Linked DNA regions of Homo sapiens. The protein of the gene in region 2 interacts with the protein of the main gene of each other region in a pairwise test. Each region holds a gene or a part of one and is shown on either strand. Other genes may lie near its edges.

Region 1 (4,460 bases), on a different chromosome or scaffold from region 2:
TTCATCACAGCACTAGTCACAATAGCAAAGACGTGCCCATCAATGGCGGACTGAATTAAGAAAATGTGGTATATATACACCATTGGAATACTACGCAGCCATAAAAAAGAACAAAATCATATCCTTTGTAGCAACATGGATGCATCTGGAGGCCATTATCCTTAGTGAATTAACACAGAAACAGAAAACCAAATACCTCATGTTCTCACTAATAAGTGGGAGTTAAACATTGGATACTCATGGACAAAAAGATGGCAACAATAGACACCGGGGACTACTAGAGAGAGAAGGGGGGCAGCAAAGGTTAAAAAACTAACTGTGGGTACTATGCTCAGTGCCTGGGTGGTGGGATCATTGATACCTCACATCTGAGCATCACACAATATACCTAAGTAACAAACTTGCACATGTACCCCTTGAATCTAGAAGCTGAAAAAAAAAAAATTTACCCCTAACCCCAAAAAATACTTTGCAGTGAAGTAAGCACACATTATTCCTCACAAGAAAAGATAAGTAATTCAATTGTCTAATGGGAAGTTAAAGTTCTCTTTTACTGAATACTCAAAATTCATCTTACGTATTTCTTTTTTGTATTTCAAGTTTATTAACTTCCACAGCTGCCAGAGAAGAAATGATAAATTTATTTTAATAGGACAACTTTTTACGTTGCTTCACTTTAAATATGACTTGCTATATAAGAGTAACTAGAAGGAAAGAGGCATGAAAAGGAAAATTTTATAATCCCAAAGACAGGTATGTATAACTGAAAAAAAAATTAAGCGGTTCATAGGCCAGCCCCTAACAACTGATGCTATAAAAATATCCTTAGGTGACATTCATATCTACATACAAATACACTTCATCGTAATGTAGTTGCCTGATTCAGTTACAAACACACCCAGTTACAAGCTGGTCTAGTAGACTCCCAAGTTGGCATGTAAGTCGTTGAGGAACAAAGACAAAAGAGATTCAGAAAATGAATAATTAATACGTGACAAATGAGATGCTTAGCATTTTAAAAGAAAATATTAAGGCTGAGTAATTCTTACTAAACACAATGAAGTATTATGGGGTAAAACTCAAAGCCAACTCCTTGGAAGAGCTTTAGAAGCTATTTGGCAGACAGGCCTTTTTGCTTTTAAGGCTGACTCCAATATTTGACTATATAGAAAACAGTCATCCAGCTAGAGCTTTCCTTTATTCACCACCTTAAACCACACTTTACTCTTCTCCTGATACTACATTTTAAAATGAGAAAAATACAGAATCTTATTTGCATATATTTGCAGGTGACCTTGCAGGCTCCACTGATATATAACCTGTGACACTACTTCTTCCACTGCTTTCTGAAAGAAGATATTTTCACTTGGAAGATTCTCATTAGCCAAAACTTTGTAGACTGTGCAGACATAAATATCAAAGTACACATAAGTAGTTTCTGTATAGGTCAAATATGTATTTAAAAATGTAATAGACATTGTTATACTGTGGCCATCTAGAATCTTTGCCTATGTTTCCTGTGTTTGAAAATTTGCCACAGTATGGATCCTTCCTTCCCCAAATAGAAGCCAGAACTCACCTTCTCAGCTTCCCTTGTCTGGCCGTGGTATCTAGTGTCTACCAACCACCTGCATCCACATGATAAGACCTCAGTTTAGAGTTAGCAGTGTGAGGAGAGACTTCAATTCAGAGGTAGCAATGGAAGAACTTAAACAAACGAGGAAACCCATCTTTCTGGCAAGGGAGGTGGTAAGAGGCATCCACCTCTCAAGGGAAAACTGCGACAGCACTTCTGGCTTCCAGAACCCAGCACTGTTGGTGTAAGCTGTGATGTCGGGATAAAGCTTCACTGTGGCCATACCCACACTATAGTGTGGGCAGTGCTCCTGTTCACCTAACCTGTTTGTTGGGTGTCCTGGAGATTCTGTGAGTTTCCAAATGTTTTTAATTTTTTTTTTCCTGATTATGTTAGCTAGAGTGGATTCTGTGGGTTGCAACTAAGAACTACATATAATACAAAAAAAGAATCTGGGCTAAATAAACCTTCATCATTTGATAAAACGATAGCAGAAGGATTATCAATTCAATAGTAACCTCAATAGTAAGCTAGAAAGAGTGTGGTACTGTGCTAGAGGCTGTACAGGAACAGAAAGGAACAGCAAAGAATGTTACATTTAAGCCATGTAAATACATGGGAAAATAGATATAAATAAAGTTAAATGAAATTTAGAAAATACAGAAGCATCTATGTAGTGACTGTAAAAATGCAACAGCATACTGGATATGCTGATAAGGATGAAAAACTTTTATTGACATATTTTTTAAATGTTCACTGGGTTTGAGGCAAATCTATCATGTTGCTAAAGAAATTAAATATACTTTTTATAACTGAAAATTCAGTAATGTGGGGAAAAATATTTGCAAATCATATATCCAATAAGACATTAAGATCCAGAATATATAAAGCCTACAACTCAATAACAAAAAGAAAATTCCAAAATGGGCAAAGGCCTTGAACAGACACTTCTCTGTATTGAAGAAAACAAATGACTAACAGGCACATGAAAAGACCCTCAACAACCCGGCACAGTGGCTCACACCTGTAATCCCAACACTTTGGGAGGCCAAGGTGGGTGGATCACCTGAGGTCAGGAGTTCGAGACCAGCCTGGCCAACATGGTGAAACCCCATCTCTACTAAAAATACAAAAAATTAGCCAGGCATGGTGGCAGGGACTTGTAATCCCAGCTGCTCGGGAGGCTGAGGCAGGAAGATCGCTTGAACCCGGGAGACGGAGGTTGCAGTGAACTGAGATCGCGCCACTGCACTCCAGCCTGGGCAAGAAGAGCGAAACTCCATCTCAAAAAAAAAAAGAAAGAAAAAGAAAAGATGCTCAACATCTTTAGTTATTAAGAAAATGCAAATCAAAACCACAATAGGATATGATTTCATATCCATCAGAATGGCTATTATTTTTAAAAAATGGAATAACAAGTGGAGAATATGGAGGTAGAGGAAACGGAGTGCTCATGCAATGGAAAATTGTGCCGCTGCTGCGGAAAACAGGCTGGTGGTTCCTCAAGAGTTACACAGTATTATCATATGATCCAGCAATTCCACTGCTAGGTCTATACCCCAAAACTTAAAAGTAAGGACTCAAACAATACTTATATACCAATATCCAAAGCAGCACTACTCACAATGGTCAGCAGGTAATTGATACAACTCAAGTGTCTATCAACAGATGAATGGATACACAAAATTGTACAGCTATACAATGGAATATTATTCAACCACAAAAAGAACTGAGATATTGATACAGGCTACAAAATAAATGAACTTTGAAGACATTATTCTAAGTGAAATAAGCCAGACACAAAAGGACAAATGTATTATTCTACTTATGTGTGGTACGCAGAGTAGACAAGTTCATAAAGACAAAGCAGAATCAAGGTTACCAGGGACTGGGGGGAAAGGGAATTTGGAGTTATTGTTTAACAGGTACAGAGCTCTGTTTGAGATGATTAAAAAGTTTTAGAAATGAACAAGGGTGATGGTTGCACAACATTGTGAATGTACTTAATGCCATTGAACTATACATTTAAAAATAGTTTAAATGATACATTTCATGTTGTGTTTTACCACAATAAAAAAATTCCATTATGAACCTTATCTAGAAATCAGTCAAAAATGAAGTTCAATATTATTCCTTTTGTGCTGCTTATTATATTATTTAATGTATAGATCCAAGGAAGTTAGTAGTTCTAACCAGAACAACGGCAACATAGCATAGTTAAAAGGTCAGGTAGGTAGACCTAGGTTAAAATACCAGTTCTACCGCTAACTAGTTTATTACATACTTAAAAAAGGACCTGAATTTAAAAGATCCCTAATAAACACTAAAGTTAGCTGCTGTTATTAGTCTTTATTATTATATTAAAAACCACCTGGAAAGGAGCAATGCATTTTATTACAGGTAAATTTTAAACTTTAGTACATCAAATAAGTGAACATGGGAAGGCAAACAAGTGTGGAAAAATATTTGCATCAATATGATTAAGAGTCTATATCCCTAATATGCAGATTTCCACCGAAAAGATGAGAGAGCAGAGAGGTACAGGGAGGCAGGAAAGTTGCTTTGGATCACAGGGTCAGCCAGGGAAGGCCAATATATGAACTAAGACATGAAATGTGAACCGAAGCTAGAGTGAAAAAGTCTGGGGTTAGGGAGCACTCTGGATGAGGCAACAGCAAAAGCAAAGGCCAGAACATCGAAGAACTTCGAGGGTTTGAGGAGTAGAGAGAAAGAAAAACAGTAAGCCTCGACAAGAAAGGCTGAGGAAAGAATTCAGGGAATCGTTTAATTAGAATTTCAGCTTTGGGTGTTGACGGTGAAGCGGGATGCTGAAGGGAGAGTGGCAGATAAAATTGAAGAGAAGACAGAAGCCAGAACTCACAAG
Region 2 (5,420 bases):
ATGTTGGTCAGGCTGGTCTCGAACTCCCGACCTCAGGTGATCCACCTGCCTCGGCCTCGCAAAGTGCTGGGATTACAGGCGTGAGCCACCATGCCTGTCCCCAAATACCCATTTTTTAAGAAGGGGAATCTAGTTATGCTTTAAAACATGCATGTCTTAGTTTGTTTTATACTGTTAAAACAGAATACCATAGGCTGAGTAATTTATAATGAACAGAAATTTATTTGGCTCATGGTTCTGGGGCTAGAAGTCCAAAAGCATGGCACTGGCATCTGGGGAGAGCCTTTGTTTTGTATAGTCCCTTGGTGGAAGGCAAGAGAGAAAGAGAGCAAGAGAGGGCAAGGGTGAGGGAGAGCCAGGGGACCAAACTTGTTTTTATTGCAAACCTGCTCTGGTGATAACTAACCCACCCTGGTGATAACAACATTAATCCATTCACAGGGGCAGAGTCCTCATGACCTAATCACCTGTTATTAGGCCTCACTTGCCAATACTGTTACATTGAGGATTAAATTTCTAACACATAAACTTTGGGGGACACATTCAAAGTATAGCAATGTTTGTATGTTAAAAAAAAAAAAACAACAAAAACCAACATACATTTGAGTGTTTTTGCTTTTTTGCTAAGGACAAATTAGCAAAAATAGGATGCTTAGTATGTCTTAGTTTTCCATGAAAAATGATCCTGTGATACAGTCTTCCAAGGAAGGATCCAGTGGGGGGAATCAATCATCTCTGGCTGAAGCATGTTGGTTACTATCTAGAATGCAGTGGGGGCAGAGTCATCAATCTCCTGTAGTTCTTAAGGTGGTGAATGCCAAACTCCCTGGAGGATGATTTGTGGGGATGCTTTATTTTGTTATAGTTTCCAAAAGGAAGATGTGGTTTTTGTTTAAAATACAAGTTTTGGCCGGGCACGGTGGCTCACGCCTGTAATCCCAACACTTCGGGAGGCCGAGGAGGAAGGATCACAACGTCAGGAGATCAAGACCATCCTGGCTAACACAGTGAAACCTCATCTCTACTGAAAATACAAAAAATTAGCCAGGCATGGTGGCGGGTGCTTGTAGTCCCAGCTACTCGGGAGGCTGAGGCAGGAGAATGGCATGAACCTGGGAGGCGGAGCTTACAGTGAGCCGACATTGCGCCACTGCACTCCAGCCTGGGCGACAGACCGACACTCCGTCTCAAAAATAATAATAATAATAATAAAATACAAGTTTTATTTTTATGTAGGAGTAACTGGCTCAGGATTCCCCTTTGATTTTGGACGTAACCCCTACAAAGGAAAGCGCCCTTTGAAAGACATAATTGGGTCGTACAAAAATCGTCACAGCAGTGGTGACCCTTCAAGTGAAGGCACATCAGGCAGTGGCAGCGTCAGCATCAGGAAGCCGGCCTCCGAAATGCAACTGCAGGTCCAGAGCCAGCAGGAAGAGCTGGAACAGTTAAAGAAAGACCTGTCCAGTCAGAAGGTAACTTCTTCTTCTGGCTTCTGTCTTACCCCACCTCAGCAGGCCAAGGACGGGAGGAGTAAAGCCCAATTTATGTTTCCCTGAGTCTTTCTGGGGACAGCTTTGTTTCCCAGGAGTTGCTTTTCCCCTGGAGGTTTCATATTGCCATGGCGGTCATCTAGGCACAGCTGCTGTGCTTGATCATTGGTTCAGAGGTGTTTGCATTTGCAAGGAGAGTGAAGATCTCTCAAAGGAGGACAGAGGAGGTTGCTGTCTGCACCACAGCCCAGTCCTGCCCCTGAGGTTGAATCTCCCTAAACACAGTTTCAGCCCAGAGTTCTTTAACAGTCATTAAAAAGAGTTTCTGCATCCTATTCAACAATGGTTTCTTGAACTAATCAGATCTAATTACATTTAATTGTTCAGCAGTTCAGTGACTCTTAGAGCACAGGTTTTTTAATACCCATGACATTTACTGGATACCATTGCTAATTATAGTGGACATGTCCATTATTTCCTGTTTCCTATTACTGTTCTCTACAGACAGTCTTTATGGAGTAAATATTTTTTTCCTCTATTTTTGAGATCCTTCAAGAGGAAGTTCAGTATTAAAATGTTTCCAGTAAAGTTTCTACATTTCCTCAAACTCTGTCGATTACTCCATGTAATGTCATGATTTCTGCTTTTCCTCCTCTCCTTGCTCTTTTCACCCTTCACTCCATTCTCCTTTTGGCTCCCAGGAGCTTGTTCGACTGCTCCAGCAGACAGTCCGGTCATCCCAGTATGACAAGTATTTCACAAGCAGCCGGCTCTGTGAGGGGGTCCCAAAGGACACGCTCGAGCTTCTGCACCAAAAGGATGATCAGATTCTGGGCCTTACCAGCCAGCTGGAGAGGTTCAGCTTGGAGAAGGAGAGTCTTCAGCAGGAAGTAAGGACGCTGAAGAGCAAAGTGGGCGAGCTCAACGAGCAGCTGGGAATGCTCATGGAGACCATCCAAGCCAAGGACGAGGTCATCATCAAGCTCAGCGAGGGCGAGGGCAACGGGCCTCCTCCCACCGTGGCGCCCAGCTCCCCTTCGGTTGTGCCTGTTGCCAGGGACCAGCTGGAACTGGACAGGCTGAAAGTAAGAGTGGGGCAGGGGCTCTGGTGATTGGCATGAGAGACCACCGATGTCACCCCAGAGGCCTGGCCTCCGTGAGCTGATTTGGTGTGACGGCAGAACAGCTGCACACTTATTTTTTTTCCCCACAAGTGTAACAGGACTTACCATCAAATAATCATTAATCTTCTGTGGAGCTTCCTTGGAAAAGGAAACTCTTGCTGTTGCTTTGAACAGTTTCAAATCCTTCCCCTCCCTTGTTTTCAGGCAACTAAGACTTCTCTTTCTATATATACCACCCTTAGTACTTCATTATCCCTTGTATCATATGGAGGCTGTTTCTTGCCTCTCCTGTGTGCATGAAATCACACACAAACTTAATTTGCACAGCTTGCTGCAGGACCTAGTGGATGCCTGGTTTGGGAGCATTGCTCCTAACAGCTAGTATGGGGTTAGCTGGGGAAGCGGACTCCAGCTTCCAAGTAGGCCTGGGAAGAGGGCCTGTTCAGAGTCAGTGCCCCCAGCACCCAAGATGGGAGGGTCCTGACACTCAGTAGGAAGGACAGCTTTCCTCCCCGTGTCCTTCTCTGGGCTAGCCCTTAGGCTGGGAGGCTATTGCCTGAACAGAAGTGACCCTCCTAGTCATGCCTGGGGTGGTGACCAGCTGATGCGGTAGGAGGAACACACAGCATTTGTGAGAGGTGGGGGCAGCCTGCATTTCTCTTCTTGCCTGTAGAGAAGCCTAATGATTCAGAGGGGAGGCCACAGGGAGGATCATAACATTCTTGCTGCCACCGGTTCTTGAGACTTTGTGGGAGAGGTTTTAGGTGGACAAGTGGCCCCCAGGACATGGGGCATCAAGTATAGCCTGTTTGACCCCAGCAGACCCCAGACATGTCTGTAGCTACTGGTCTCACCTAGCCCCAAGGCGTCCCTCACCTGGCCACCCTCATCTTGCAAATAATGTGTCTCCGAGGGTGTTTGGCTCTGGATGGAGCTTGTCCTTGGAGGGCAGAGGTTTGCTGCTGTCCAGGTTGTTACTGAGTATTTGCTTCATGCCTAGCAGTACCTTTCAGGCGATGCATTGAGTGAGGGAATGATAGGCATGCTAGGGACCCTGAAGATAATTCCAAAACAGAAGTAAAAACACCGGAATCATGGCAGCATGGCTGGAATATGTACATGGTCCCCATAGTGACCACTTCTCACTGACAACACCCATTGGATATGTGAGGCCCAGAGGATTTATGAATGAGAAAATCCAAAACAACAAGAAAACCTCTGGTCTCAATACTTTACACTTATATCTACTATTTAAAAAAAAAAAAGTTGGCTGTGCATAGTGGCTCACGCCTGTGATAGCAGCACTTTGGGTGACTGAGGTGGGCACATTGCTTGAGCCCAGGAATTTGAGACCAGTGTAGGCAACATAGTGAAACCCCCGTCTCTATACAAAAAAAAAAATGGCCAGGCATGGTGGCTTGCACTTGTGGTCCCAACTACTCAAGAGGCTGAAGTGGGAGGATTGCTTGAGCCCTGGAAAGCAGAGCAAGGCTGCAGTGAGCGGAGATCCTCACACCACACTCCAGCCTGGATGACAAAGTGAGACCCCGTTGCAAGAAAAAAAAAATAGGCTTTGTGGTTTTTGTTTGTTTGTTTTTTTAATAAGAGGTCTTGGTTAGCATTGCCAATGGAAGTTGGGTTTTTTAATGTACACAACATTGAATATACATGACCCTAAATATATACCCATCAATAATACACATTTTGGGATTACTTAATGAAAACAGAAATTTTTATTTTTATGTATTTATTTTTTTTGAGACAGTGTCTTGCTCTTTTGCCCAGGCTGGAATGCAGTAGTGCAATCTCAGCTCACTGCAGCCTTAACCTCCCTGGCTCAAGAAATCCTCCAGCCTCAGCCTCCTGAGTAGCTGGGACTAGAGGCATATGTCACCACACCCAGCTCATTTTTATATTTTTAGTAGAGACAGAGTTTCGCCGTGTTGCCTGGGCTAGTCTTGAACTCCTGAGCTCAAGTGATCTGCCTGCCTTGGCCTCAGAATGCTGAGATTACAGGCATGAGCCATTGCATCCAGCAGACAGGTGAAATTTTTATTTTGCAAGTGTGTCTATTTCTGTAGTGCGTAGAACAATACTATAGTGGTGGGTTTCCAGGGCGTGCGTGACACTTGGCAGTGGGGGAGACGTGTGGAGCAGGTTTTCCCGGGGAGCGAGCCAGGGTGTGCGTGGAGGTTATGCTTCGTGGCTGTGGCGACTATGCAGCTCCTTCTGTAGACAGCTAACGGAGCTGATCGGGATACAGCGCTGTCAGAACAGGACATTCCCTCCTCTTTTCTTTTTGCAGCATAATGGGTGGAGTGGTTTTGAGCCATGAAGTTTTTTTCCTCCAACATTTCTCAACTTAACAAGTTTAGCAATTTTTAACAACTTAACAAGCCTGTGGCCCCAACATATCACAATTGTGAGGTGATGTGGCGACAGACGATGAAGAGGCAAAGTGGTTGTTAGGTGGATTCCAGGTGAGACAGTTGAGGCCTGCCTGGGTCCATGACCTCATGCTTTCTGACATTGCTCTGTTATTGCCAGTGCTGGGGGTCCCTCTGCAATGCAGAAGGTGTTCACACCTCATGCAGGTCTCCTCTGCAGTGGCACTGGGAGAACTGGAAAGGCTCCAGGGAGAAAGAGGGAGCGCACTGACAGAAGTGGGTGTTCTCGTGTGTGTTCCCTCATAGCCCTTCAGCTCTAGACAGGGTATGGTTGAGGAAGAAATATTGATTCCTACTTCTGATTCCAAATTTAAATGTCTAAGTGGAAAAATATATATATTTAAGATATATTTATT

What was found. Proteins that work in one complex are often made in the same cells at the same time.
Region 1: the proteins of TBC1D2B (region 2) and TRDMT1 interact in a two-hybrid assay, tested with the Homo sapiens proteins (one large-scale study listed by BioGRID and IntAct).

What each region holds. Positions count from the first base shown.
Region 1 is NC_000010.11:17,195,173-17,199,632, forward strand, and holds part of TRDMT1 (tRNA (cytosine(38)-C(5))-methyltransferase), read right to left. Parts: intron 1-4,460. UniProt on the Homo sapiens protein: Specifically methylates cytosine 38 in the anticodon loop of tRNA(Asp). Has higher activity on tRNA(Asp) modified with queuosine at position 34.
Region 2 is NC_000015.10:78,021,314-78,026,733, reverse strand, and holds part of TBC1D2B (TBC1 domain family member 2B), read left to right. Parts: intron 1-1,236; coding exon 1,237-1,475; intron 1,476-2,194; coding exon 2,195-2,578; intron 2,579-5,420. UniProt on the Homo sapiens protein: GTPase-activating protein that plays a role in the early steps of endocytosis.